7 linked regions of the Homo sapiens genome follow. The protein of the gene in region 6 purifies or fractionates together with the protein of the main gene of each other region. This does not show direct contact. Each region holds a gene or a part of one and is shown on either strand. Other genes may lie near its edges.

What was found.
Region 1: the proteins of SLC28A1 (region 6) and POLR3E purify together in Homo sapiens (affinity purification with mass spectrometry; one large-scale study listed by BioGRID and IntAct). This does not show direct contact.
Region 2: the proteins of SLC28A1 (region 6) and TMED5 purify together in Homo sapiens (affinity purification with mass spectrometry; one large-scale study listed by BioGRID and IntAct). This does not show direct contact.
Region 3: the proteins of SLC28A1 (region 6) and ATRN purify together in Homo sapiens (affinity purification with mass spectrometry; one large-scale study listed by BioGRID and IntAct). This does not show direct contact.
Region 4: the proteins of SLC28A1 (region 6) and ZFC3H1 purify together in Homo sapiens (affinity purification with mass spectrometry; one large-scale study listed by BioGRID and IntAct). This does not show direct contact.
Region 5: the proteins of SLC28A1 (region 6) and DPY19L3 purify together in Homo sapiens (affinity purification with mass spectrometry; one large-scale study listed by BioGRID and IntAct). This does not show direct contact.
Region 7: the proteins of SLC28A1 (region 6) and CHAF1B purify together in Homo sapiens (affinity purification with mass spectrometry; one large-scale study listed by BioGRID and IntAct). This does not show direct contact.

The regions. Positions count from the first base shown.
Region 1 is NC_000016.10:22,313,795-22,318,062, reverse strand, and holds part of POLR3E (DNA-directed RNA polymerase III subunit RPC5), read right to left. Parts: intron 3,985-4,268; coding exon 3,935-3,984; intron 2,975-3,934; coding exon 2,855-2,974; intron 1,463-2,854; coding exon 1,377-1,462; intron 1,069-1,376; coding exon 1,024-1,068; intron 949-1,023; coding exon 857-948; intron 1-856. UniProt on the Homo sapiens protein: DNA-dependent RNA polymerase catalyzes the transcription of DNA into RNA using the four ribonucleoside triphosphates as substrates.
Region 2 is NC_000001.11:93,170,109-93,174,376, forward strand, and holds part of TMED5 (transmembrane emp24 domain-containing protein 5 isoform 1 precursor), read right to left. Parts: intron 1-4,268. UniProt on the Homo sapiens protein: Potential role in vesicular protein trafficking, mainly in the early secretory pathway. Required for the maintenance of the Golgi apparatus; involved in protein exchange between Golgi stacks during assembly.
Region 3 is NC_000020.11:3,575,008-3,579,275, reverse strand, and holds part of ATRN (attractin isoform 1 preproprotein), read right to left. Parts: intron 3,450-4,268; coding exon 3,328-3,449; intron 2,418-3,327; coding exon 2,279-2,417; intron 695-2,278; coding exon 504-694; intron 1-503. UniProt on the Homo sapiens protein: Involved in the initial immune cell clustering during inflammatory response and may regulate chemotactic activity of chemokines. May play a role in melanocortin signaling pathways that regulate energy homeostasis and hair color.
Region 4 is NC_000012.12:71,653,611-71,657,878, forward strand, and holds part of ZFC3H1 (zinc finger C3H1 domain-containing protein), read right to left. Parts: intron 3,692-4,268; coding exon 3,275-3,691; intron 1-3,274. UniProt on the Homo sapiens protein: Subunit of the trimeric poly(A) tail exosome targeting (PAXT) complex, a complex that directs a subset of long and polyadenylated poly(A) RNAs for exosomal degradation. The RNA exosome is fundamental for the degradation of RNA in eukaryotic nuclei.
Region 5 is NC_000019.10:32,460,754-32,465,021, reverse strand, and holds part of DPY19L3 (protein C-mannosyl-transferase DPY19L3), read right to left. Parts: intron 1,657-4,268; coding exon 1,534-1,656; intron 1,154-1,533; coding exon 1,042-1,153; intron 295-1,041; coding exon 238-294; intron 1-237. UniProt on the Homo sapiens protein: C-mannosyltransferase that mediates C-mannosylation of tryptophan residues on target proteins.
Region 6 is NC_000015.10:84,887,256-84,891,523, reverse strand, and holds part of SLC28A1 (sodium/nucleoside cotransporter 1), read right to left. Parts: intron 4,139-4,268; exon of another isoform or gene 3,938-4,138; intron 3,780-3,937; coding exon of another isoform or gene 3,764-3,779; coding exon 3,668-3,763; intron 2,753-3,667; coding exon 2,664-2,752; intron 1,082-2,663; coding exon 990-1,081; intron 1-989. UniProt on the Homo sapiens protein: Sodium and pyrimidine nucleoside symporter of the plasma membrane that imports uridine, thymidine and cytidine into cells by coupling their transport to the transmembrane sodium electrochemical gradient.
Region 7 is NC_000021.9:36,388,189-36,392,456, reverse strand, and holds part of CHAF1B (chromatin assembly factor 1 subunit B), read right to left. Parts: intron 907-4,268; coding exon 789-906; intron 1-788. UniProt on the Homo sapiens protein: Acts as a component of the histone chaperone complex chromatin assembly factor 1 (CAF-1), which assembles histone octamers onto DNA during replication and repair.

The sequences.
Region 1 (4,268 bases), on a different chromosome or scaffold from region 6:
AGCATATCATGGAGCTCCCCTCTCTCCTTAGACTCCTAAGAGCTCATGGTGGCATCTCAAAGGACGAGCCCAGGTTCTGCGGCTCCATTCTGAACTCAAGGATCAGGTCTGTTGTTCACCAGCCACGGGTACCCTAAAGGTTCTGGCACTCAGAGTCCTCTGAGAAAAGGAGACCAGTCCTTATGGTGCCAGGTCTGGCAAGAGTACCCAGAAGCAATGCCAGTGAAGACATTGTCATGAAAATGACCCTAGTTGAGCCGGTGCAGTGAATGGCGTCTGCTTGTAGGCCCAGCCACTCGGAAGGCTGAGGCAGGAGGATCACTTGGGCCCAGGAGTTACACAGCAAAACCTTTAAAAAAAACCTTTAAAACCTTTAAAAAAACCTTAAAAAAAAAAACAACAACAACAACAACAACAACAACAAAAAGCCCCTAGTCCGTGTTCGCCTGCAAGGCCCTGTACTTTAGAAGCCTCCTCTCTCTGATTCCTCACATTGGCCCCCAGGAACTATCATTAGTCTCTTTTCACAGAAAAACAAACAAAGCCTCAGAAAGGTTCATGACCTGCCCAAGAGCATGGCAGACAAGTGGTGAGCATGGCACAGGAACCCGAGCCCGCCTGTGGGGGCCAGACACACTACTGTCCTACATTCACGGGAACCCGGGCTGCCTGCGGGAGCTGGCCGCACTGCCGTCCTGCGTTATCTTTCCAGACAAGGATGCAGCTGCAAAGCTGGGCAGGCTGTGGGCAGCAGGGGCCTCTGGCCTTGTCCCCTGGTCCTCACTGTCCCACAGAGTCCATTCCTCAGGAGCCACTGGGACTGGGGCCCCCGGGTGGGCAGGGGGTAGGCACCCACCATTCTTCATCAGGATCTTGATCTGATCGGCCAGGGGCAGCGTGCGCAGCTGGGCCATCGACAGGACGTTGCTGGGGGCCACAGGCTTGTCTCTGGGAAAAGCAGAGGGGACGGGTTAGAGGCAGCCAGCCCGGAAAGGGAGAGGGTGTCCTGCCGCCTCTACTCACTTCTCCTCCTCCTGGCTGGGTGGCATCAGCATCATCAGGTACTCACTGCAGGGACATGGCAGGGGCAGAGGCTCAGGGCTGATCCAGGCTGGACCCTCCTCACCAGCCACCCAAGTGAGGGTCTGGGGAGAGGGTGCAGACAGCCCACCCCCGCCCTCCCCCAGCAGCCCTGAGCCCCTGCAGAAAAGTGGACCATCTCTTTCCAGGCCCACCCTCCTGGCCTTCTCCAGGGGACAATGGGCTCCACCCTCATGCTACAGGAGGGGCCACAGTCCTCTGGGAGGATCCACACCAAGGACCCCTGGGGACCCTGGGCAGGCATCCAGTTTGCATGCTGGCCCAGCCCATCCCACCTGGGTGACTTGACGAGCTCCGTGTTCTCCACCCCGCTTGAGCCGGGGCACAGCAGGTACTGACGCTCATGCTCAGAGCGACTGTCCTGTTGGAGGAGGGCAGGGTGTGAGAGGAGCCTCAGCTGATGGCCCTGGCCTGGGCCCCCTCCCCCAAGGCCTCCCGTCTTCCACTCCATGGCCAGCCACAGGACCACATCCAACCTCCTGAGCACGGCACCCAAGGCCTCTGACGTGGCCTCAGCCACTCATCTTCCTGGCCTTATGACCTGCCCAGCCCCAGCCCCCAAGCCTCGATGCCTTGTCTGTAACACAGGTACACCACCAGCAATGACAAAATGATGGCTAACATTCACTGGGCATCTAGGATGTGGTGGACTCTGTTCCACTGACTGTAAATATACTAACCCATCTCACCCTCAAAATAACTTGGCAAGGTAGGTACTATTATTACTACTCTCATTTTATAATTAAGAAAACTGAGGCTCAGAGAGGTTAGCTAACATGCCCAAGGTCACACAGCAGGAAACAGCAGTGTCTAGAAGTTTGACCCCGAGTCTAAGGGTCTGTTAACACAAATCTCTTCCAAGAAGGTTCCAGAGAAATCAGGAGTTGTTCCCCACCCCAGAAAATATTGGGAGCCCTGGCCCATGGTGTCTTTGGAAGCATCCCTCACTCAGTACACAGTTTCAAGGGTTAGGTTCTAAAATCAATGCACCAGGGCCAGGTGGTCGTGGCTCACGCCTGTAATCCCAGCACTTAGGGAGCCTGAGGTGGGCAGATCACTTGGAAATCAGGAGTTCGAGACCAGCCTGGCCAACATGGCAAAACCCCATCTCTACTAAAAAAACAAAAACAAAAAAATTAGCAGGTGCCTGTAGTCCCAGCTACCTGGGAGGTTGAGGCAGAAGAATCACTTGAACCCGGGAGGCGGAGGTTGCAGTGAGCTGAGATCGAGCCACTGCACTCCAGCCTGGGTGACAGAATGAGACTGTCTCAATAAATAAATAAATAATAAATAAATAAAAATAAAAGTAAATAAAGTCAGCGTACCAGATGAAAACCAAGCACAGTAAGAAAATCCCCTGGGCAGGTGGTGCTGGGAACTCTGGGGTGGCAACACATGACCGACCCTCTAGGACAGAACCGGAGAATGCATCTGGCCTGCGTTTAGGGCCTGGGCTGCAGCGAAAATATGTTACCAGGCACTAGCCCCACTGCAAGCCCAGCAAGATGCCCATGCCCAGGGGCCAAACCCCACCCAGGGAACCAAGGACTCGCATCTTTTCCTCTTGCTCTCCTGGGGCCCACGCTAAGTGGCTCGGCTGGAGTGAAGTGTAAACTGCCCACAGGACTCGATCCTCTATCTGTGGCTATGACTCATGAATTTGACTTAAGTTCAAGGTGAGACACGGAGGCCACACCATGACCCTTCCGGGCACCGAGGTGTTTCCCCCAGGACCCCACGAAGCCCCGCTCACCCTCAGGCCATAGTAATGCAGGTGGACCCAGGGCTCCTCTGCGTGCTTCTTCTGCAGGAACTCATAGGACTGCACACGGCGCTGGCGGGCCTGCTCTGACTCCGGCCGGGAGAACCGCACCTGCGGTGGGAAGGGGAAGAGGTCATACCGTCAGGCCTGTGACCCTTGCTGGACTGCCGTCTCAGCCCCTGCCAGAAGACCAGAGAACTCCGTATAGGGGTTTTCCACTCTCCCTTCCTTTCCTAGCACAGGTCGTTTAAATTCCGTTCCAACCGTGTCCCTCCCAGAGCTGCCTGCACACGCCAGGGAACGGCTTATACTTGCTCGTGCCTGCCCAGCCCAGAGGCTTGAGGGGGATTAGAGTCCCAGGCGCCAGAGCCAGCAGAGTCCTTAAAGCAGACAGGCCCAGGATGCCTTTTCTAAGTTCCCCAGAGCGGAAGGGAGTTTCTAAGGTCCTAATAAGCTACGGAGAGAACAGGATGAGCTCCCTGCGCCACCTCCATGTCCATTACGCCCGTGTTCCCCGGTCCTCAAGGGCTTCCAAACACTCACCACTCTCTAGCCATACTTGTGTATCATCATTCTACGTGTAGCATTTTTCTTTTGGTACTACTCATTTTAATCTAAATATGCTTAAATAGGGAAAACTTTACAAACCATAAATGGAAGGTTAAGATTCTTTGAAAAATCTTTAAAATTCAGGAATAACTATTAAAACGAAAACTATTCATCCGTGCCCCATAAAGAGGATAGAATCACAGTTAATTGACTTTGGCTCTGTTAAGATACAGGTTCATGGCAGAGCTGGTCTGCGGGTCCTCAGGGCTCCTGGCCCCAGCTTCCTGCTCCCAGGTGACTCTAGCCAAGCCCCAGGCACACATCTCCTGGATCCAGCCAGGGCTTCCATCTTGTGTATAGCTGGAACAACTCAGGTTGTTCCCTCCAGGTAGCCCAGCAAGAAGGCTCAAAAGCATGGGCCCTGTCTGCTCCACCTGCATTCTGTGAAGACCCGCTACCCCTTGGTCTCTGGTCCTGCTGCCGCCCAGGCAGCACCCTCCTCCTCCAGGGGCCAGGGCTCACCGTGATCTGCTTAACATCGTCTTCCGCCTCATCCTGTGAAGAGTCCCCTGCTGCAAGAGAGACAAGCCACTGACTGCAGTCCTGGGGAGCCTCCACCTCCCTTCTCTCAACCCCACCCGCCAGGGAAGCCTCAGGCCGGGGTGCTGGGAGTTCTCCTCGCAGAGGGAGCTGCCTAAGCCAGTGGTTCTCAATCGGGGACAGTTTTGCCCCTTTACCCTGGGGATACTGGGCAATGTGACCTTTTTGATTGTCACGACTGTGGGGTGGGTGCTTCTGGCATCTAGTAGGTAGAGGCCAGGGATCCTGCTAAACATCCTATCATCCCATCCCTCTT
Region 2 (4,268 bases), on a different chromosome or scaffold from region 6:
ATGCTGGCAGCCCTGGCTCGCTCTCAGCGCCTCCTTGGCCTTGGCGCCCACTCTGGCCACGCCTGAGGAGCCCTTCAGCCCGCCGCTGCACTGTGGGAGCCCCTTTCTGGGCTGGCCAAGGCCGCAGCCGGCTCCCTCAGCTTGCCGGGAGGTGTGGAGGGAGAGGCGCGGGTGGGAACTGGGGCTGCGCGTGATGCTTGCGGGCCAGCTCGAGTTCCGGGTGGGCGTGGGCTCCGCGGCCCCGCACTGGGAGCGGCCGGCCGGCCTGCAAGCCCTGGGCAGTGAGAAGCTTAGCACCTGGGCCAGCAGCTGCTGTGCTCGATTTCTCGCAGGACCTTAGCTGCCTCCCCGCGGGGCAGGGCTTGGGACCTGCAGCCCGCCATGCCTGAGCCTCCCCTCAGCCCCCCACTGTGGGCTCCTGCGCGGCCCAAGCCTCCCCGAAGAGCGCCACTCCCTGCTCCACGGCACCCAGTCCCATCAACCGCCCAAGGGCTGAGGAGTGCAGGCGCACGGCATGGGACTGGCAGGCAGCTCCACCTGCGGCCCAGGTGCGGGATCCACTGGGTGAAGCCAGCTGGGGTCCTGAGTCTGGTGGGGACTTGGAGAATCTTTATGTCTAGCTAAGGGATTTTAAATACACCAATCAGCACTCTGTGTCTAGCTCAGGGTTTGTAAATACACCAATCCACACTCTCTGTATCTAGCTAATCTAGTGGAAAACTTTTGTTGTCTAGCTCAGGGATTGTAAACACATCAATCAGCACCCTGTCAAAACAGACCAATCAGCTCTCTGTAAAACAGACCAATCAGCTCTCTGTAAAATGGACCAATCAGCGAAATGTGGGTGGGGCCAGATAAGAGAATTAAAGCAGGCTGCCTCAGCCAGCAGTGGCAACCTGCTGGGGTCCCCTTGTACACTGTGGAAGCTTTGTTCTCTTGCTCTTTGCAATAAATCTTGCTGCTGCTCACTCTTTGGGTTCACACTGCCTTTATGAGCTGTAACACTCACCACGAAGGTCTGCAGCTTCACTCCTGAAGCCAGCGAGACCACAAACCCACCAGGAGGAACGAACAACTCCAGACACGCCACCTTAAGAGCTGTAACTCTCACTGCAAAGGTCTGCAGCTTCACTCCTGAGCCAGCGAGACCACAAACCCACCAGAAGGAAGAAACTCCGAACACATCCGAACATCAGAAGGAACAAACTCCGGACACGCTGCCTTTAAGAACTGTAACACTCACCGCGAGGGTCCGCGGCTTCATTCTTGAAGTCAGTGAGACCAAGAACCCGCCAATTCCGGACACAGTGGAACATTATTAATAAATCTATACCCACAAATTTGAAAACTTAGATGAAACAGGCCAATTCCTTGAAAGATATAAAGTACCAAAACTCATACAAGAAATAGATAACCTGAATAGGCCTGTATCTGTTACAGAAATTATACTGATAATTAATAACCTCCCCCAAAAGAAAGGACCAGGACCAGACAGTTTCAATGGTGAATCCTACCAAACATTTATGGACAAAATGAAACCAATTCTCTAAAATCTCTTACAGACAATAAAGGCTGAGGGAACAATTCTTTACTCATTCTGTGAGGCCAACATTACCCTAATTCTAAAACCAGAAAAGACATTACAAGAAATGGAAACTACATACCAGTATCTCTTAGGAACACAGATGCAAAAATCTTCAACAAAATATTAGCAAAGCTGATTCGACAATGTAAACAAAGAATTACAACCATGACCAGATGGATTTGTTCCAAGTATATAAGCCTGGCTCAACATTCATGAATTATTTTGTGTAATTCATCACATCAACAGGCTAAGGAAGAAAACTCAGATGATCACAGCAATGGGTATGGAAAACATATTTGATAAAATCCAATATCAATCCATGATATTTAATATTAAAAAAATCTTAGCAAACTAGGAATAGAGGGGAACTTCCTCAACTTAAGAACATTTACAAAAATCCTACAGCTAAGATCACACTTAATGGCGAGAAACTAGAAGCTTTCTCACTAAAATCAGAAACAAGACAAAGATGCTACTCCCTCATTACTCCTACTCAGCACTATACTGGAAGCTCGAGCTAATGTAATACAACAAGAAAGGGAAAGAAAAGACATACCTATTGGAAAAGAAGAAATAAAACTGTCCTTGTGATAGTCCATGTAGAAATCCTAAAGAACTGCCAAAAAAAAACCCGTCCCGGAACTAATAAGTGATGATAGCCAAGTCTCAGTATACAATATTAACATACAATAGTCAACTGCTTTCCTATACACCAGCAACAAGCAACTGGAGTTGGGAATAAAAAATACAATACCATTTACGTTAGCACTAAAAGAAAAAAAAAGAAAAAAAGAATTAGGTACAAATCTACCAAAATATGTACAAGATCTATAATCCCAGTAATCCCAGCTACTCAGGAGGCTGAGATGGGAGGATCCTGAGCCCAGGAGTTTGAGACCAGCGGAGTTACACAGCAAGACCTCATCTCAAAAAAGAAAAAACAAATTAGTACATTGTTGGTGGGAATGTAAATTAGTACAGCCCTATGGAAAACAATATGGTGGTTCCTCAAAAAACCACAAATACAACTACCATATCATCTAGTAATCTCACTTCTGGTATACATCCAAAGGAACTGAAATCAGTATGTAAAAGAGATATCTGCACTCCCATATTCATTGAAGCATTATTCACAATAGTCAAGACATAGAAACAACCTAAGTGTCCATTAATGAATGAATAAAGAAAATGTGGTATAGATACACAATGGAATACTGGAGGACATTACACTAAGTGAAATAAGCCAGGGACAGAAAGACAAATACTGCATTATCTCATATGTGGAATTCCTAGAATTCCATACAGTTCCATTCCTAAAAGTGGAGAGTAGAACGATGGTTACCAGAAGCTGGGGGTGGGGGACTTGGGGAGAGAGGGAATAGGGAGCTGTTGATCACAGAGTACAAAGTTTCTGATAGACAGAAGGAATAGGTTTTGAGATCTATTGCACAGGAAGGTGACTATGGTCAATAATAATGTATATTTCAAAATAACTGAGACTGAATTTCAAATAGCTCATCATAAAAAATTATAGGCAAGGCAATGTTAATTAGCCTGATTTAATCATTACATGTTGTATATATGTATCAAAACATCACGCTATACCGCATAAATGTATACAATTATAATTTGCCAATCAAAAATAATACTGATAATAAATTTTTAAAGCTAATGATGTAGAAGATAGAGCTGAAGAAATTATCCATAAAATAGGAGAGTGAGACAAAGAGAGAAATTATGAGAGATTAAGAAGCTTGGATGATCCACTTAAACTGCAGTGAAAATGCAGAAGCAGAAAATTTAAAAAGCTACAAGAGAAAATAGAGATGAACTACAAATATATAACAAACTGACAGGAAGCTTCAACAGCTATAATCGAAGTCAGAAGACAATAAAATACTAGTTTTGATGCATTTAGGAAAAATATCTGTCAGTGAAGAATTCTTTAAGTAATTCAATTCTTTAAGAAAAGTCAAGAGAGCAGAGCCGTAAGAACCAGAGGAAAACAAATTAAGCCTGAAATCAGTCCTATTCAGACTTCCAGTTATATGAACCAATAGACTTCCTTATTAAAAACTGATTTGGTTTGTTTACCTATTGGTAAAAACTTTGTAAGGACTTAAAGACCATGACATTTTAATTAAATAATCATATGTGTTTCACCCCATCAAACCCTATATGTTTTTATGAGTATGGGAAAAGGTGTGGAAGAGTTCACATCTAGGAGAATGACAACAGGCATTCAATAGAGTTACAAAGAGGTTTTTTTTTGTTTTTTTTTTGAGATGGAGTCTCACTCTGTCACCCAGGCTGGAGTGCAGCAGCACGATCTCGGCTCACTGCAATCTCTGCTTTCCGGGTTCAAGTGATTCTCCTGCCTCAGCCTCCCGAGTAGCTGGGACTACAGGCGCGCACCACTGCGCCCAGCTAATTTTTGTTTTTTGTTTTTTCTTTTTTTTTAAGAGATGGTGTTTCACCATGTTGGTCAGGCTGGTCTCCAACTCCTGACCTCGTGATCCACCCACTTTGGCCTCCCAAAATGCTGGGATTACAGGTGTGAGCCACCGCACCCAGCTTTTTTTGCTTTTACATCTTTGTATTGTTTGACTTACTCTAAGGAGGTTGTATATTACTTTTATAATTGGAAGTAAAAAAATTCATAAAGGAGACAGGTGTGGTGGCA
Region 3 (4,268 bases), on a different chromosome or scaffold from region 6:
GACCTCAGGCGATCCACCCACCTCAGCCTCCCAAAGTGCTGGGATTACAGGTGTGAGCCACCACATCCAGCTGAGATGTACACTTCTTAGTGGTAATTATACAGTCTTATGCACTATTATAATACCTTAACTCCAAGGAACTCAGGTGGCTTAATCCAACCTAGCTAATTATCAGTGACCTCTCTTTCTCCCCTAGCAGAATCCAGAGGTAAAACAGGTATGAAATAATCTACTGATGTCACCAGATTATGTACACATATACATGTTACAATTCATCCCCCATATAATTATTCATAGATCTTATATATACAAAGTATTAAAAATTTTAAGAGGAAGAGACTCTGACAGCACAAACCCACAGTCCCTCAGGCTGCGTTCACCAGCACTCCCCTTCTTGCCAAGCACGTCACACATATCCACAGCCTTCCACATGCAAGCTGCAGTCATGCCCTTGGTAGAAAGGTGGATAACCAGAAACTTAAGTTTTGAGGATTTTAACTCACCATGCTCTGAGATGACTGCATTATTCGCAGCTGCTTAAGGACAAATTCTACCTTCTTCTGGGTTGTAAGAGAAGCCAAAAGGGCATTGTGGTTCCTACAGAACAATTTAGCATTGTCATAATTCTCCTTGGCAGTAGTAATTTTCAAACATGAGTTTCCAACCAAATGCCAGCCAATGCCACAGATATTTTCTTTCATTAAGGGGAAAAGAGAAAGAAAAGAATTTTAGAAATCAGACAAAACTACTGTATTATGAGTTCAAATTACTGAATACCGAAATGGCCTTTCTAATTTAAATTCTAGGTACTTCATTAGGATGTGGGAGCCTCTGACACATTATTAAGGACCAAATGCAGAATACAAGAATTTTAAAATGTTTACTGGTGATATCTCCCGGATCCTAAAAAGCATATTCTGAGGTCACTTATCCTATGTCTTAGATGAAAACACCAGTTTGGTGCCAATATTAGACTGGTACACTTCCTTCTGAAGAACAATTAGAAAACTAAAATCCTAAGTGAAGAGCAGACAAATGAATATGCATATTGGAGGGCTGGGGTAAAAACTGCAAGAATGGAAATGAATCAAGGAATTAACAAATCTATAGTCTCCAAAAGCTGCACTGTTTTCATATCATCAGGTGGAAGGTACAATCAAGTGTACAAAGCATCCCAAAAGCAAGGTGAGAAGGTCCTTCTTGAGAAACAACCCAAGTGATATGGCTATAGCATACAAGACAAGCTTGTAATCTGCTACCTGTGATCATCCTGAACCCACACAAGGTACTGCACAGAAGCTATGAATGCTTCCTGGAAGACAATGAAAGAACAAAGCAACTTCACCAGAACCAAAGTACTTTGGAGACATCAACAATGTTCATTAACAGTAACAGTCACTGAGATAAAAGAAAGGTACCATGGGAAAGAGATCATTTAAGAACAGACAAAGACTTGCTCCTCACAGTGTAGCAGTCGACTAGATAAAATGCACACTCTAGGCCCCACCCCACACTTGCACCAGAATATGCCTTTCGCAAGATTCCCAGGTCTTTTCCTGTACCTTAAAATTTGAGACACACTGAGATATAGAAAAGAGTCCCACTCTGCAAGCTGAATCAAAAACTTCCAAGGGACATTCAAAAAGGGCCTGGTCCAAACCAACTTCCCTGAACAAGCTCAGATGTTGTGCACAGACAAGGAAGTTCCCCTTTCTGGACCACCCTGGTCCAAATATATCACATGGCTGGCTGGTCTCAGGCCCTGAGTTCATCATCCTGAACCTCAGAAGCAGGATATATTGAGGTTTTCAGGGCTGGAGATCACCCCTAAAAGGTGCTGCTGACAGAAGTATCTATCCTCTCCTTCTCAGAGAAGGCCCATTAGCAGGTGCCAACAATTAAATCCCAGTGGTTAATAAGAAGTACTCTCCATAAAGTGCTCAGCAGACTGACTGCTGAGACATCATGGTCTAGTCCCAGGTTATCAAAGGTGGATGGGAAAGAGACAAGGAGCAGGCTCAGTGATACAGAACCAAGCTGTCACTCAATTCTACAGAGCAGCAAAGGATGTTTCACTTTATTTCAAAGGACAGTAGGAACAAATACTTAAGAACTGTATTTTAGTTAAAAACAAAAAAGCCCATAATACTCGTGTGGGGGATGAATGGACAGAATTAGCTCTTCCCCTCTGCTAGGTTCAACTTAGGCTGCACAGTGTTGGGGGAAGCAGGCTGAAGTAATGGACCCACACACACCAAGATGACCCTGCAAGGCCTACCGGGCAGGGCAATGCACTCCTGATTCCGGGGCTCCCACTGGCAGTTCTGGTCCAGGGCACAGCTCCTGCAGCTGGTCTTCTTGTTACAGTAGTACATGGGGTTATCCTTGGGGCAATTCTCATACCTAAAAATGGAGATCTAGAACACAGTGGACAAAAGCTTTTCTTTTGTATCCACAGAGAGAACTTATGGTGAGGACCAACAGGATATTATAGACAACAAAATCTAATTGAGGAAGCAAACTGCAAATAAATAGATAGACAGATAGATAGATAGATAGATAGATAGATAGATAGATAGACAGACAGACAGACAGATAGATAGATAAGTTGCAGTAGCTCTGCAGTGGGGAACACTGCAATGGAATGTTCTGCTCAAGGACATGCTTTTAACTGGCAAGGAAGCAGCCCACTCTTTTAAACACCATGCCTCAACCTGCTCATCTGTAAAATGGGAATGTTGAACTTGGTGCTTTTCAAATGCTCACTTCAAAAGTCTGAAAGTTTTCTATTTTATGAACTGTATGAGACTGACAAAAAAAAAAGTCTTGTAAGCTGTCAAAAACTATAAAAGCCTGGGTCATCTTATAACTTAAATTTAAAAATCTATATATGATGAGCAGTGAGATTATGCCAAACCAAGATATAAAACAAGGAGATTTTGCAAAGTCTGTCATTTCCACAGTTCAATATGGGCCGCTGTACACCTGACTCACTCTCAAACCCTAACTTTATCAAAACCTGGCACTGGTAAAGTGAGGTCACTATCAGATGCCTCAAACCAAGGATCCAGTGCTTAGTCACAGCCATGCCCAGGGACAACAGTCCTACCTTCTTCTAAAACACAATACACAAATTCCCAGGGCTAGTAGGACCCTTGAAATATACAGAACATCTCTTCCTAAAGGAAAACCTCAGGGATAATAAAATCCAAATAGAAACCCATTTGAAAAGTAACTCTGGGCCATTATTTATACCATATACACTATAAAAGCTAAACCTATGACAAATTGGGATTTTTCTGAAATCTTTAAGAAACAGCCTCTGACCTGGCCTTCTGAGCAGCTGTGGTTCCTGGGGACACAATGGTCATTGCACCAGTGGCAGTCATTGGTGTTGGCTGTGCAGCTGTAACAATCTGTGTGCTGGTCACATCTGTCATGGTCAAGAGCTGCAAAGAAAACAAAATCTCATGAACTGGGACAACTTCAATTGAGCAAAATCTGAGACCGAAGTTAAAAAAAAAATCGTAACAATGGTTAAGAAGTAAAATGAAGAATGAAACTGGCAGGAAAATATATTTGGTATGTTCTGGTTAAAATAATATTTAGAAATAGACAATCTAAAGAAACACTGTTTTGTACCCCAAAGAAAGAAGTACACAGAAAGTGAAAACAAGGATAGGTTAATTTAACAACTGTAAGATATAATGAAAGTAAATTCTGGCTCTTTGAATACTTTTCTTTCCAAGAAAAAAAAAATCAACTAGTAATAGAATGAACACCAAAGAAGCCCAGGAGCCAAAATATTGTAGGACACCAAGTCATTCCTCCTAGTTATAAACGCAAGGCTAATTTGGGCACAGGAAGTAGGCAGCACCACAGAACTGAACAGGAGGCATTAGGCTGAGCTGCATTTTGTACATGCGTGTAAATTCAAGAGTGCAAGTCTGAGAATTTCTGGGCTACTACAGACCTGCCGCATCTCCTGTTAACTCTAGAAAAGAGAAGCTGCATGGCCGGATGCGGTGGCTCATGCCTGTAATCTCAGCACTTCGGGAGGCCGAGGCGGGCGGATCACAAGGTCAGGAATTCAAGACCAGCCTGGTCAACATGGTGAAACCCCGTCTCTACTAAACCTAGAAAAATTAGCTGGGCATAGTGGCGCGTTCCTGTAATCCCAGCTACTCAGGAGGCTGAGGCAGGAGAACTGCTTGAATCAGGACCTGGGAGGCGGAGGTTGCAGTGAGCTGAAATTGCGCCACTGCACT
Region 4 (4,268 bases), on a different chromosome or scaffold from region 6:
GGATCTTTAAAACAACCAAAGAAAAAAGATTATCTTCAAATTGGAAACCATTAAGACTGATAGATGAGTTTTGAAAATCAACAATGGAAGCCAGAAAATATTGTCAGTAAGAATATAATTAGGGGCTGGGTGTGGTGGCTCATGCCTGTAATCCCAGCACTTTGGGAGGCCAAGGCAGGCGGATCACTTCAGGCCAGGAGTTTGAGACCAGACTGGCCAACATGGCGAAACCCCAGCTCCACTAAATACAAAAATTAGCCGGGCGCAATGGCATGTACCATAGTCCCAGCTACTCAGGAAGCTGAGGCATGAGAATCACTTGAACCCAGGAGGCGGAGGTTGCAATGAGCCAAGATAGTGCCACTGCACTCCAGCCTGGATGACAGGGAAAGACTTTGTCTCAAAAACAAACAAACAAAAAGCATATAATTAAACAACCTAGAATTCTAAACCCAGGGAAAATATCTTTTAAAAAGAGTAAACGGAAATCGTTTTCCACCCAGCAAAAACACATTTTTAAAAAAAAAGTCTAAAGAATGTATTTAAGCACAGAGCATGGTGGCTCACACCTGTAATCCCAGCATTTTAGGAGGCTAAGGCAAGAGGATCATTTGAGCCCAGGAGTTTGAGACCAGCCTAGACAACATACTGAGACCCCGTCTCTACAGAAATTTTTAAAACATAGCCGGGCATGGTAGTACATGCCTGTGGTCCCAGCAACTCAGAAGGCTGAGGTGGGAGGATCACCTGAGCCCAGGAGGTCAAGGCTGCACTGAGTCATGATCATACTCCTGCACTCTAGCCTGGGCAACACAGTGAGATCTTATCTAAAACACACACACACAGAGAATATATTTATACATATATAATTCCAGACATGATACAAAGAGTGAGCCAAGAAAGTGCTAAATATATAGGCAAAGCTAAGCAAATATCATTCTTTGTATTTCGGGGAAAGAGTAAGGTTCCTGATTAACTTTAAACACTGGTAGGAATATAAGACCAGAAATTTAGTATCCAACTTCCAAACTAGCAAATGAAAAAAAATTGTGTGAAGAAAAATAAGAGCCTAAAAAGAAAAAAAAGAAGAAGAAATAAAACCAAATGTCAATAATCATAAAAAATGTGAGTAGACTATACGTTCAAGCTAAAGGACAAAGATTGTCATACTGAATTATAAATTAAAACCAGCTCTATACTATGTACAAGTAATATCCGAGACATGAGGATACAGAAAGACTGAAAGAGTGGGAAATTATATAAAGAGAAAGATGATGTGGCTATTAATATAAGACAAAATAGTCTTTTAGGCAAAAACATCAGAGATAAAGTCACTACATAATGACTCAATTACCCACCTTCAAAGTATTTAAAGCAAAAAGTAAAAATCACAAATCCATCATCATACTGGCAAATTTTAACAAACTCCTCTTAGTAACTGATCAAGCATATCAAAAAATAAAAAAAGTGAACAACACAAAAAGCTCAAGTAATCTATAAATTCATTTCAAACATACACAGAACTCTTACAAAAAACTGATTACATACTGGACAATAAAGGAAGTCTCCAAGTATTTCAAAAGATTGGTTATCATAGCAATCTTATTTTCTGACAGTATGATTGACTTAGATATCAATAAAAAATACTGCTAGACAACCTACATGTTTAGAAGAAACATACTTCCAAGCAGCCTACAAGTCAATGAAAAATAAAAATTAGAAAATATTCAGAATGAATGAAAAAAGTTAAATAACCCAACTTGAGACAGAACTAAAGTCAAACTTTATGGCCTAAAATGATCTTAATAGGAGAGAGGCTGAAAACTGAGTTTAAAAACTTATGTACTTATTTCAGGGTAAATTAAAGAAGAGAGCAGGGAAAAAAAAGGTACAACTTATAAATACTACAGATAAAAAAGTAAAGGATTCTTAAGAACAATTTTTATAACTTCTGTAACTTACAGGAAATAGACACATTACAAAAAATATAGAGTTTACATAAACTGTCTTAACAGAAATAGAAAACACGAAGTTAGATTAAAACTTTCTCAGAAAAAAACTCCACCCAGGCCCAGACACTTTTATCAGCAAGATCTACCAAGTATCTCAGAATGTTTCCAATCTTAAACTATTACAGAGAATAAAGATGAAAACAGCCCCAACTAATTTGAGTATTATAACCTTACACTAAAAACTGTCAAGGAAAAAGAGGGGGGGGAAATTACAGGCTCTGAACACATAAAAAATTCTAAACAAAACACTAGCAAACCTTCATTTGTAATAGCCGAAAGTTGGAAAAACCCAAACATAATTGGGAAATGGATGAACTACAGTATGATGGGATACACAGAACTACTGACATATACAATTACATGAATGAATTTCAAACACATTATGCTCAATGAAAGAAGCTATAATGAAAGGCAATATACTGTATGATTCCATTAGTGTGACATTCTGGAAAAGGCAAAACTATAGGGACAGATCAGTGGTTACCAGGTGAACTAAGGGCTGAGGGACGGGATAACTACAAAGACACTTGGAGAAACTGTTTGAGGTTGATGAAAGAATTCTGTATCTTAATGGTAGCTGGTGATGGTTACCCACTGTCTACATTTGTCAAAACCTGAAGAACTACACACTTATTCATTTATAATGTTAAAAGATAAATTTTACTGTATATAAATTATATCTTAATAAAGAGGAAAAGAAAAAACAAGCCAAATCCATGATTTAAAAATGGTATATCATAAACTGTATTAAACGCAAGCATACAAGGGTGGTTTAATACTAGAAATAAATTATATAATTCATTACACTAACAAATTAAAATAAATTAGATGCTCATCCCAATAATGAAGAAAACAGATTTTGTAAACTTCAACATCCATTCACGCTGAAAATTTCAAACCAGGAATAGGAGTAAAACCCTCCTTTACCCGATAAGGGATACCTACAAAAAAATTAACATCATATTTAATGGTAAATGTCAAAACCATTTTCTTTAAATTAGGAAACAAAGGTGTCCACTATTATCACTTATGTATAACATTCTATTATAGAGGCCAGAATGTCAGGCAAAAAATAAATAAATAAATAAAGACTAAAAGTAAACAAAATTAGTAATTATTCAATGATATGAATGTCTACATAGAAAGTACAAAAGAATTTACAGATAATTACAATCATTTCAATGAAGTACACTGCCAAAACAAGTAGTTACTACTTTAGAGGAAGAAGAGTCATTACTAACTGAAATATTTAATTCCATTACCTTGACTAGAATCAGTAGTGTCGGATTTCAGGGAAAGTGGTTTTGCTCCATCTTTAACTTTTTTCAAACGGTTCTTATCTCCTGGTAAAGTCAATTTTTGCCTGAGTGGTTTTAATTCAAATGCCTGAAAAGTTTTGACTTGTGTTTTCTCCTCAGGAGCTACTTCTTTACTTGAATCCTTTGTAATACTGACATTATCAGTGCTAGTTTGGTCCTCGAAGTTCAATGTTTTAGGATCTTCCTGCACATTCTCTTCTTTGCTACTCAATGCTAGTTTTTCATCCTTATTGATGCATTCTAGTTCCAACTGTATTTGTTTATACTTTAAAAGCAAATCTTCAAAAGTTTCTTCCACACAGTTTTCATTTTTTGATGAATAATTTTGTTTTCTTGATGGAGACCTTCCAAAACTTTTGGCTGAACAGCATATTAAGGAAACCAGTTTCCAAAAATTTTCCACAGTTAAATTTAACAAAAAAACTTAGATTATAGATGAATTTTCTCCCTTTTTAATTTTTCAAGAAAAATGAATCGATATTTTTAAATTACTAAATTCCATTTAATGTATGTGCAGCTAATGCCCACTTTCATTACGTGCCCATATTTGAATTTAGTAAGTACCATATAAACAGTCCACTTACAAAATCACTAGTGTCATAATTACCAGTAGTATCCACAGACAGTCCACCTAGTTAGGTTATAGCATCATTCCTTCTGTGCCAGGAAAGTCCATAATTAGCTGTATGTTAGAGATTATTTTCTGAAGGAAGAGGGGAGAAACTGAATGCTTTGTCACAGATGCGGATAGTTTACACTTCAGGGGGCCAGGCGCGGTGGCTCACGCCTGTAATCCCAGCACTTTGGGAGGCCGAGGCAGGAGGATCACTTGAGGTCAGGAGTTTGAGACCAGCCTGGCCAACACAGTGAAACCCCATCTCTACTAAAAATTAAAAAATTAGCCAGGCGTGGTGGTGCAGGCCTGTAGTCCCAGGTA
Region 5 (4,268 bases), on a different chromosome or scaffold from region 6:
AAATTAATTAGAATTATTAAATGCTATAGTAGTTTTCGCTATCATGTTTTTACTTGTTAAAACTATTTGGGAAAAAGATCCATTTTCCCATCAATGTCACCTTCAGTAAGAAGCTAAGGAGGTATTTATAACCTTCACAAACCACTCTATTTGCCAAATAATACACAAAATATATTGAATCAAAGCAATTATTCTGCTAAATACATGAATGACAAGAATGAGGAAAATCAGTCTTACCTTATAGCATAGATACAGCAGTATTAATATCGGTACTGAATATCGCATTATACATATCTATATAAGAAAGACATTATTTAGATTATAAGTATTTTGAACCTTTTCTTTTTTGAGAGACAGGGTCTTGCTATGTTTGCCTAGGCTGGCCTGGAATTCTTGGGCTCAAGTGATTTTCCTGTCTCAGCCTCCTGAGCAGCTAGGATTATAGGAGTGAGCCACTGTGCCCGGCTTTTTTAAACACTTCTGCCTTACAGTTTTGCTTTGTAAATATATGCCTTAAAAAATTACCAGAAATATAATTTAATGGAGCACAAGTCTCCAATATGCAGAATAACTGAGTCGATACTAGGATTCTAATCATTTGTAAGATATCTGCAGCTTCTACTATATTGCCACCTAGTGAATTTATGGAGTAGAACAATTCAAAACTGCATTTATAGGCTACTGAAAAATTGTCATACATATATAAATAATTATCTTTATGAAAATACATTATAATAACAACAGTTATAATTCCGGACAAGGGGATTATTGGTAATTTTAATTCCCCTTTTGTGCTTTTTTTTGTATTTCCAAATTCTGTATAATGAACATATCTAACTTATAGTCTGAGAAAAAAGTAATTTTTTAAAATAAAATTATTTTAAAATAATTCCCTATAAAATCTTAATATATCAATTATGTATTTTCAGCTTCAATTTCAGTATCCATTTTATCTCACAGCTACTGAAAAACAAAAAAAGAAGTGGTATGAAAGAAATACTGCAAGTCATAAAAGGAGATGGAAAAAGGGATGACACTGACCCTCTTTGGGTTATAAAGATGGACTGACTTCAGAAGTAACTCCCATATTTCAGGGCTACATAGGCCGAATGATGCGAACACACACATGTGTGACGTCCAGAGGTACTTCATTCTGCAAGAACAGACACAGGCGCAAGTCAGAAGTACTAGTTGTATATAAACCTGGATTCTGAGACACCTATAAAGGCAGCTTTACAGTCTATGACGGCAAAATCTTACTTAAAACTATGCAGATGCCATTTGCCGAAGGGTTCGTTGTTTAACTCCACTGCCTTTTCAAGACTATGCTTTGAGTAAAACATAGAGGCGTGTTTGTAATTAATTGTAAAAACTGATGTTGAGTATTTTATACTGAGAGAAGATAGGATATAAGGATGATTTTATGGGAACCATGATCATTAATGAAGATGATTGTCACTTTCCAAATTATATTGCTAAGTAACATCAAGAGTGATCAAATAAAAAGTAAACAAACAGGTAAGACAAAAATACCTCATTGTACTCAATGCCAAGAATCCAAACAGAATGGTATGTATTAAGTTGTAGGCAGTTTCTGGTTTCAGGTCAACTGTGCCTTTTTCCATTTTACCCACGGATTGTTGATTTGTAGAATCACTGAGTAAAACAGCAACATACAAAATTTAAGCTGGAAACATAATTTTAGTTAGATCTTTGTAAAAGAAGAAGATACAAGAAATGTATGCCTTTATGTATTCAGAAATTGATTATTTCCATAAGATGAAATGAATTCGCATTGATCAATTTTGAATTTATGAGGCTAAAGTGTAACAATATAAATGCATTAATAATGAGAAAAACTGAAATTTCACAGCAGCTTTGAAGTAAAAATTTAAAGTGCTTCAATTCTTTAAATTAAAAGAGAATGCAAAAAAAAAAACTCAAATTTTTTGGAATTGCTGAAATTGAAAGAGATTTTTAAAAGATGTTTTACCAGTTATTATGAGTATTTTTCAAATTTTTACAAATAAGCAAAAGCAAAACACACATCCATTAACTTGGAATTCAGTTCCTTTATGACCCCTCAAAAATCACATTTTTAACCTACCAATACCTCCTGATATCCAAAAGATGACTTTTACCAAATACGGCTACATTAAAATTATTACACCCAATAAAAGTAACAATAATTCCTTAACATCATCTAATACCTAGTTCATGTTCTATTTTCCCTGTTTGCATCAATTGCTTTTTTCAGGTTTCTCTGAATCAGGATCTAAGAACTGCATGTTGCATTTCACTAATATATATCTTTAAATATCTTTTGATCTATAAAAGTATCTCCTTTTTTTAAAAAACAGGCCATTTGTTTGTGGAAGAATAGAGAACATATGTCCTGAAGCTGTTCCCGTCTCCCAGGTGTGGCTCACAGTGGTGGTTATACGTTTCATGCTTCTTGTAAACTTGTAATTAGATCTAGAGGTTTATCAGACACAAGTTCATTTTTTTGGCAAGAACACTTCACGGGGTTATGATGCACAGTAGTCCCCTCTTATCGGTGGATTCACTTTCAGTGGTTTGTTATTGAGGAAACTGCTGTCCGAAAATATTAAATTGAAAATTCCAGAAATAAACCATTCATAGTTTTGAATTACATGCTATTCTGTGTTGCATGATGAAATCTCTCCATCCCTGTCTGTCCCACCTGAGACTCAGATCATCATCCCTTGGTCCTGTGTTTCCACGCTGTATAGTCTACCCACCTACCCGAGACAGACAAGCAGATACATTCAGCTACTAAACTACTAATAAAGTAAGATACATTTAAATGTCCCTGTATTGTTTGTGTTCAAACAGCCCTTATCTTACATAACTAAGGCCCCAAAGTGCAAGAGAAGTGATGCTGGCATGTTGCTATAATTGTTGTATTTTATTATTATTGTTATTCTCTTACCATGATTAATTTATAAATTAAACTTTATCACAGGGATATATGTATAGGAAAAAAACATAGTATAGAAAGGGTGTGAAACCATCCGAGGTTTCAGGCATCCACTGAGGGACTTGAAACATATTTCCACAGAAAACAGGACGGCTCTATTCCACATCACATTACACCGGGAAGCACACACTGCCTGGCTGTCTCCACTTCAGTGATGTTAAGACTGATCAGTGACTTTAGATGTTGCACAATTTGTTGTCGAGGGGAAAAGAAAACAACAGTAAAGGCTACTAGTTAAAGATGAAACTTTCATGAAGGTCTACTGATCCCTTCATACATACCCAATAGAACTGGGCACATACGATGCTTCTCTATGTAACTAGAGACTTTTTTTATTTCCCAGAAATCCTTTTTTTCCTACCATAAATACATACGAAAATTAAAAGGATACTCTAAGGCAGTTCTCACCATTGGTAATTCACAATTGGAATCTTTACTTAAAAGTAAATATTACAACCCAAACACTGGTTTCCATATTGGTACAAAAAGGATACTCCAAATAAGAATATCCATCAACAGGGCAAGGTGTGAAAAGTAAATAAAAATAAAACAGACAAGGGGAGTATCTGCTCTTATCCTCTCTAGATACCTAAGAGAAGTCTGCAGTACCTCCCCCATAGCCCAGCCAAGCTGGAAGGCTCTGATTAATTCCATGAACACAGAACACCATGCCCCTTTCAGATGTACCCCTCACACTAATGCAGATGTCTACATAAAAGTCATAGTATCTGGCAGGGTGCAGTGGCTCATGCCTGTCATCCCAACACTTTGGGAGGCTGAGGCAGGGAACACCATGCCCCTTTCAGATGTACCCCTCACACTAATGCAGATGTCTACATAAAAGTCATAGTATCTGGCAGGGTGCAGTGGCTCATGCCTGTCATCCCAACATTTTGGGAGGCTGAGGCAGGCAGATCACTTGAGGTCAGGAGTTCAACACCAGCCTGGCCAACATGGTGAAACCCTGTTTCTACTAAAAATACAAAAATTAGCTAGGGGTGGTTGTGCATGCCTGTAATCCCAGCTACTTAGGAGGCTGAGGCAGGAGAATTGCCTGAACCCGGAAGGCAGAGGTTGCAGTGAGCCGAGATTGCACCACTGCACTCCAGCCCAGGCAAGAGCGAGATGCATTTCAAAACAAAACAAAACAAAACAAAACAAAACAAAACAAAACAAGTCATAGTATCATCCTTCCTAGTACTAAAAAGGTAGAAATACTTTAAATACTTGGCACTGACAAAAGGCCCTTATTTAAAAGTTAATTCAC
Region 6 (4,268 bases):
TTCTCCAAGTGTGCCTGGGGAGCCTCCTCTCTCCCTCAGATGGCCTGGCAGTGGTACCTCCAACAAACTATCCTAATTATCCCCCTTCCTGCCAAGACTCCCTCTGCACGCATGTTCTCTAGCTCTGTGGAAGACACCATCATCCTCCTATCACCCGAGCAGGCCCCTGGGGCAGCCCTAATTCAGGGTTTCCTTCATGCTGCACACCCAGTCATTGCCAAGTACAGCTAGCATTGCTTCCCAAGGACCTCTCCCATTGCCCCCGCCCACCTTCCACAGCTTCATTCTCACACAGGCATTGCAGTCCTCAATGTCTCCATCTCCCCCTCTTTCCTGCCCTCCTTCCAGGGTCCCACCGTGTGAATTCCACCTTGACGCTTCCCTGTTCAAAACCTTCAGTGGCTCTCTCTGGCCTTGAGGGTAAAATCCAAGTCCTTGAGCATCCTCCCATATCCCTACCCACTCCCCATCCTGGGCCCTTTCCTATCTCTCCAGCCCCATCCCCTGACACTCCTTGTCTAGAACTTTACCCTCCAGACCTTACAGTGCAGACGTCGAACTTTATCGAAACCCACACCCTGCCAGTTTTCACCTTTGCTCCTGTGACTCCTCTGTGTGGAGTGCCTTTGCCCTCCTTAGTATCTATCACCTCCACCTGGCTAACTCCTACTTAGCCTGTGAGACTCCAATGTCACCTCCTCCTGGAAGTCCTCCCTGATCATCCCCCATTCCTCCTTGGTGTTCCCAGATGACATGCTGCATTATGTGGGACTATTTCTTCCGCCTCCCTTACTGATGAGGGAGTGCCTTGGGAACAAGATCTGGCCTGGCTTAACAGATGCCTCAGTACCCAGCAAGGGAGCTGGACCTGAGTTGGTGCTCAACAACCATTTGTTGAATGACTGGGTGAGTGAATGACCCTGCCCTGAGACATGGATAGCTGAGGCAGGAGTCATTGTGTCCTGGGTAGTGCTGGGCCCCAGGCTCACCAGTGCAGAGCAGGCCTGTGCCGATCCATCGAAACAGCTGCATGTGCTCCCTGCAGAAGCTTCTGGCTCTCAGGGCTGGCTGCAGGTTCCTCCTGGGAACAAGACCAGCAGGGTCCATGAGTGCATGAGCAGACCCCATCTGGGGGAGATCCTCAGCACCTCCACTCAGGTATGTCCCCAGTAAAGTGGCAACAGGGGCAAGCCAGGGCTTGCCTTGACATCCCCACAGGGCTGCAGGGCAACCCCAGCCCAGGGCAAATGTAGAAATGGTTCAGGCCTTCCTGCCTCTGTGGCAGCACCCACAGGCCCCACTACCCCAGTGATAGTCCCTGCCTCCAGGGCTCAGGAGGAAGTTCACTGAAAAGGCAGAACCTCATCAACATACAGAAATGTGGCCGGTGGGGGGGCGCGGTGGCTCACACCAGTAATCCCAGCACTTTGGGAGGCCCAGGAGCGTGGATCACTTGAGCCCAGGAGTTCAAGACTAGCCTGGGCAACATGACAAACCCCTTCTCTACCAAAAACACAAAAATTAGCCAGGCATGGTGGCGTGCGCCTGTAATCCCAGCTGCTCAAGAAGCTGAGGCAGGAGAATCTCTTGAGCCCAGGAAGGGTTCGTGCCACTGCACTCCAGCCCAGGCAACAGAGTGAGACCTGCCTAAAAAAAAAAAAAGAGAGAAAGGAAGGAAGGAAGAGAAAGCAAGCAAGCAAGAAAGAAAGAGAAAGAAAGAAAAAAGAAAAGAAAGAAGGAAGGAAGAGAGAAAGAAAAGGAAGGAAGGAAGGAAGGAAGGAAGGAAGGAAGGAAGGAAGGAAGGAAGGAAGGAAAGAAGGAAGGAAGGAAAGAAGGAAGGAAGGAAAGAAGGAAGGAAGGAAAGAAAAGAAAAAGGAAAAGAAAAGAAAAGAAAAACATGGATGGCTGCCTCCCCTCCCCTGTCGTTCATCCACCTGCCCATGGGACACACATTGAGTAGACGCCCACTCAATGCTAATTGGAATCCACCCACCAGCTGCCATTTTAAGGAGCCTCACCTCCTCTCAGTCCCCACCTCCCACCTCCTCCTGAGAGGGTGGAGGAGGCATTCTTCCCATATCCCCTGCCCAGGCAGAGAGACGGAATCCCTCCCCCACCACCACCCCCTGCCCATCACGGTGTCCTCAGCTCCGGATCTGGCCAACAAGGACCCAGATGGCCCAGGCATCAGGAGGTGGAGTTCTATGCTCACCTCAGACACTCGCTGCCTATGCCATCCTGGCTGGTCCCTTCCCCTCTCTGGGCTTCTACCTCCCTGTGTAAAATCAGGGACCTTGCCCAGTTCAGGATTTTTAACCGGAGTCTTCAGACTCCCCGAGGTACCCCAGAGACTGAATGGGGGTAGAAGGCAGAAGGGGGAGGTTGAGAGGGAGGCCTGGCTGGTTCAGGGCAGGCCCCACGGTACATACTGGGGTTCCTGATGGGATTTCGTTTCAGCTGTTCAAAAGCAGGTGGGGAGCCTGTGACTTGGCTCACCCTCGAGGCTCATGTGCCTGTGCGTGTTGGCTAAAGCGCCTTTATTCCTCCCTTCAACAAAGGTTCACGTCCCCCCAACTCCCATCCGCCAGGAGGCCCGGCTCCCCATCCTGTTCCCAAGCAGCCTCCACCCCAGGCCCGCCCTTGTCTCTCCAGAGATCACCTACCATCTGGAGAAGGGCTTCGGCGCCGCCTCGCTCCAGCTGCTCCTGATCTCTGCGGGGCTCAAGTCACTCCTAGGGAGCTGGCCTTCCTCCTACAGCCCGCAGGGAGCCGTCAGGTCGGCCTGCCCCTTACCCACCCCCAGGAACTTACAGCTGGGGGTCGGGGGCCACGGTGAGACCCTGGCTGAGGAGGGGACTGGGCTGGGGCACAGGGAGGAATTAGAAGGCTACTAAACTGGATTCTGCAAGGCAGGCACTGAGCACCTACTGTGTGCAGGGCTCTGCCAGACACATCTTGCCCTCAGCGAGCTCATGGTCTGCGCAGGGACAGACACCTGCGGCCCAGCTGTGACTGAGAGGGGCCGAGGGGAGGCCTGTAAGGGAGGCCCCAGGCAGGGCTACCTCATCACATGACCTCAGGGCACCATGCACCCACCGTCTGTGGAGCTGTTTTGGGTGGGGGGTGGGTATTCTTGCATATGACAGCGTGAAAGGAGCACCCCAAGAGACAAGGGCAGTGAAGGGGAGGGGGCTTTGTCAGAGGAGCCTGGGAGCGTGCAGGGTATCCTACCAGGCTCCGAGTTCTGGGTGGTGTGCCTCGACCTGACCTGGCCACTTGAAAGCAAGGACAAGGCTCCTTGAAGGCTGAGATTTCCTTAGAGACCCCCCTCCCCCATCATCTGGTTTTGATTCTCATTCTGTAGGTCACAGCTCTAATGTCACTTCCTCACTGGGGCCTGCCCTGCCCTTTCAGACTAGGACTTTCAGACTATAGTGCACACAGTACGTGCTCAGTCAATGTTTAATGAGTGAAATAAAGGGGTCTGCCTTGTGTTGAGGAGGCCAACACACTGGGAGGTTCATAACTGTGCCAGCAAAGAGGTGAGAAGGGGGCAGAAGAATGGGGTATGAGGGAAGGTGGTGAGCAAAAGCCTCATCACCTCGGCAGCCGGGCTCAAGCCAAAGAGGCTGAGGGGTCAGGATGACTGATGGGGAAGGGTACAGACCAGGCTTTCCAAGAAATCAGCCCCCATGTTCTCCAGACCCTTGGCCACAGGTGTGAGAGAGATGGACTCTCTTCGTCTCGAGGGGTCGTTCTCCATGTCCCAGACCTTCCAGCTGAAAGACAAATCAGGGAGCGCCCAACGCTGAAAGGGAGGCCGGGCAGGGCCCAGTTTAGGGGCCCGGGGAAAGGGGAGAGGACTGAGTGGGGGGAGCAGATGCCTGGCACAGCCAGAGCCCTGCCTGGGGGCCACCTATGCCATCCCAGAGCTCACCCCTCCTTGTGACTGGGACTGCAACCTTGACTTCTCAGCACATGGAGGAGGTACCTCTTCCTTTTTCTAGAGACTGGGTCTCCCTGTGTTGCACAGGCTGGCCTCCAACTCCTGGGCTCAAGCAGTCCTCCCACCTCAGCCTCCCAAAGTGTTGGGATTACAGGCGTGCGCCACCACCCCAGCCTGCACCCACATCTGAACCTGTAAGAGGCAAGTCCTTGTGAACTCTGGGAGTTCCAGGCAGAAACAGCAAATTCTGCCCACTTCATAGGGAAGGAAAGTAAAGAATTATATACAGCCTGCATATGTATCTGATACAGGCATTTTTCTG
Region 7 (4,268 bases), on a different chromosome or scaffold from region 6:
CCCCGTCTGGGAGGTGTACCCAACAGCTCACTGAGAACGGGCCATGATGACGATGGCGGTTTTGTCGAATAGAAAAAGGGGAAATGTGGGGAAAAGATAGAGAAATCAGATTGTTGCTGTGTCTGTGTAGAAAGAGGTAGACATAGGAGACTCCATTTTGTTCTGTACTAAGAAAAATTCTTCTGCCTTGGGATGCTGCTAATCTATAACCTTACCCCCAACCCCCTGCTCTCTGAAACATGTGCTGTGTCAACTCAGGGTTAAATGGATTAAGGACGGTACAAGATGTGCTTTGTTAAACAGATGCTTGAAGGCAGCATGCTCCTTCAGAGTCATCACCACTCCCTAATCTCAAGTACCCAGGGACACAAACACTGCGGAAGGCCACTGGGTCCTCTGCCTAGGAAAACCAGAGACCCTTGTTCACTTGTTTATCTGCTGACCTTCCCTCCACTATTGTCCTATGACCCTGCCAAATCCCCCTCTCCGAGAAACACCCAAGAATGATCAATAAATACTAAAAAAAAAAAAAAAAAAAAAAAAAAAAAATTTAAAAATCAGCAGGGCATGGTAGCATGCACCTGTAGTCCCAGCTATTTGGGAGGTGAGAGGATCACTTGAGCCCGGGAAGTCAAGGCTGCAGGGTACTGTGATCACAGTACAGCACTCCAGCCTGGGCGACAATGAGACCCTATCTCAAAAGAAAAGAAAAAAAAAGTCAAAAGGTATATTCCATTTAATGCACTCATCGTAAACAGAGATCACTGCCATGGTCCCTCCCAAGTTACCGCAGAGTCTTCACAACCGTCCAGTTCTCCTTGTTCAGCTGGGCCTCGTCCTCATCCTGAAAAGCGATCTGCTCCGGCTCCTTGTTATCATTCACCTTCCACAATAGGATGACAGCATCTGCAGGGTGATTCAGTAACAGTGATCCACGCTTCACCCACACTCCTTCATATTAGGATTTTTATTTTCATTTTTTTTTTTTTTTTTGAGACGGAGTCTCACCCTGTCGCCCAGGCTGGAGTGCAGTGGCGCAATCTTGGCTCACTGCAACCTCTGCCTCCCAGGACCATCCTGGCTAACTGTCTCTACTAAAAATACAAAAAAATTAGCTGCATGTCAGGATTTTTAGGGTATTAAAACAACATTTATGTTGTTCAGTGGACACTATGGCCAGGATGATTTACTTCCAAGCATTTCAACAGGGAAAGTAGGCAAATTGCCTTCTGAGCTAAAACTCCAAAATCAAATTCATAACAGATCAGAGCTATACAAAATCACCTTAAACAGAAGGGTCCCTAGGCCAGCAAATGCCACTGCAAAATGACTGGCTACATTAATAAATCTGAAGGCATAACCTATAAATAGCTGAATAGAAAAACAAAACAGCAAAGAACCCTCAGTGCAAGGGTTGGCAAATGTTCCTAGCTCAGAAACCTTCAGCAAGTCACTTAGCATCTTGATGTCTCAGTTTCCTCACCTGTAAATGGGGATAATAGGCAGGGTGGGGTGGCTCACGCCTGTAATGCCAGCACTTTGGGAGGCTGAGATGGAAGGGTTGTTTTAGCCCAGGAGCTCAAGACCAGCCTGGGCAAGAGAGCAAGACCTTGTCTCTACTAAAAATCAAAAAAATTAGCCAGGTGTGGTGGCACACACCTCTGGTCCCACTACGCAGGAGGCTGAGGTGGGAGGATCACTTGAGCCCGGGAGGTGGAGGCTGCAGTGAGTCCTGATCTTGCCACTGCACTCTAGCCTCAGTGACAGAGCAAGACCCTGTCTCAAAAATGAGGATAACAATATATCTACCTCACAGGCTGTTGTGAGGATTAAATTGGCCAATGTATATAACACACTTACAACACAATGGCTGGCAGATAGTAAGCCCCATGTAAGTGTCAGCTATTAATACCATTATAGATATCAGGTACTTTAGCCTGAGGTCACCCATTGTCTAAGTCCAATAACTCCCCACATTCTGACTCTACGATTACCACGTAACCTTCTGACCATCCCTTAGCTTCCCTTTTAGGAATGTGCACAGCAGGACAGTGAATGAATGAGGTTGTGAGGACATACGCATTCCCATTCTTTGTTTTTCTTTCTTTTTTTTTTTTTTTTTTGAGATGGTGTTTCACTCTTATTGCCCAGGCTGGAGTGCAATGGTGCAATCTTGGCTCACCACAACCTTCGCCTCCCGGGTTCAGGCGATTCTCCTGCCTCAGCCTCCCGAATAGCTGGGACTACAGGTATGCACCACCACACCCAGCTAATTTTGTATTTTTAGTAGAGACGAGGTTTCTCCATGTTGGTCAGGCTGGTCTCGAACCCCTGACCTCAGGTGATCTGCCCACCTCAGCCTCCCAAAGTGCTGGGATTACAGGCGTGAGCCACCGCACCCAGCCTGCATTCCCATGCTAAGTTAACCGGAATCCTATTCGCACACATTAGTCTGGGAGCTTGGTTAACATGCCATTGGCCCTGATGGATGAACACTCTCCACGTGCTGACAACAGCAGGTTTCTGGGCCTCCAAGACCAAGGGACTTTGGAAAATGGGGGCTGCCATGTGCAACCTCAGGGCAGACAGCAGGTAGCCACCCCCAGGTGGCGCTCCTGCTCCCCACTTTTCCCTCTACAAATCAGCGTGCGCGCGCACACACACACACACACACACACACACACACACACACACACATCCCTTCATGCACTCTGGGTATCATGGCACTGAACTCAACCAGGTCTCTTTTCCTCCTCCTGCAAAAAAAAACTTTAGATTTCTGTTTTATTTTGTAATAGTTTCTAGATTGTTTTAAAGTATGGTAAAAAGGTTTACTTTTTTTTTTTTTTTTTGAGACAGACTCTCACTCTGTTGCCCAGGCTGGAGTGCAATGGCCCAATCTTGGCTCAGTGCAACTTCCACCTCCCAGGTTACAGCGATTCTCCACCTCAGCCTCCTGAGTAGCTAGGATTATAGGAGCGCACCACCATGCCCAGCTAATTTTTGTATTTTTAGTAGAGATGAGGTCTCACTATATTGGCCAGGCTGATCTCAAACTCCTGACCCCAAATGATCCACCTGCCTCGGTCTCCCAAAGTGCTGGGATTACAACATGTGTGAGCGACCGCGCCCAGCCTGGTTTACTTTTTCCATATAGTTTTATCCCATTTAAGCACAGGCAGAAAACAAGAATCAATCTATTCCCACCAAACAAGCAAGCACAAATCACAAGGCCATTCATTAATGACACTCCCGGTATGCTCCCTCCCCAGCACCCTCCAGCAGCCCGGCACTGCAGACACCAGGACTCCAAAGCAGCATCAGTCACAGCAGGGAATGGGAGAAAACACACAGATGTCAAACCAGAGGAGCTGCCAAGCTGGGTACCGACGCGGGATCTTACCCCGACCGGCACTGCTGGAGCGTTTCAGAGGCTACTATGGGTATTACAACAAGTATGTCACTGTGAAGAAAGGGAGCATTGCGGGGGTTTCCACAGTGTTGGCAGCTTAGGTGCTTTTCAGCTACTGCCTTTCTTACAGGGAGATCAAACACGAGCAGCTACTCAGGGCCCACTGAAGAGGGGCCAGTGGGAGGGCACACTGCACTTCTGAGCATGGCACACCTCCATGAGGAACTTTGCCATTGCTGAATTCTTTCATATCCCAGTTTAGAATTCATGCCCAAATAGCCCGGGCGCGGTGGCTCACGCCTGTAATCCTAGCACTTTGGGAGGCCGAGGCAGGCAGATTGCCTGAGCTCAGGAGTTTGAGACCAGCCTGGCTGACAAGGCGAAACCCCATCTCTACTAAAAATACAAAAATTAGCCGGGGGTGGTGGCAGGCGCCTGTAATCCCAGCTACTTGTGAGGCTGAGGCAGGAGAATCGCTTGAACCTGGGAGGCAGAGGTTGCAGTGAGCCAAGATTGTGCCACTGCACTCCAGCCTAGATAACAGTGAGACTGTCTCAAAAAAAAAAAAAAAAAAAACTCCCAAAGCCAATTAATTACTAACACAGTCCTAAAGCCATTTAATTAATTACACAGAGACACAGAACTGACTCTGATCACCACAGATGTTAAACTAACAATCCAACAAAACCAGAACAGTCGCCTTGCTTGGGATGTGACAGAATGGTAAGTGCCTTTCCATCTCGTCTTAGAACAGCCTGGTGGGAGCTTGCGGGAAAGCAGCTGTTTTCAAACAGGTGTTCCTGGTTTCATCTTGCTGTCCTCCCTCCCTGACTCTACCACATTCCCTAGAACAGTA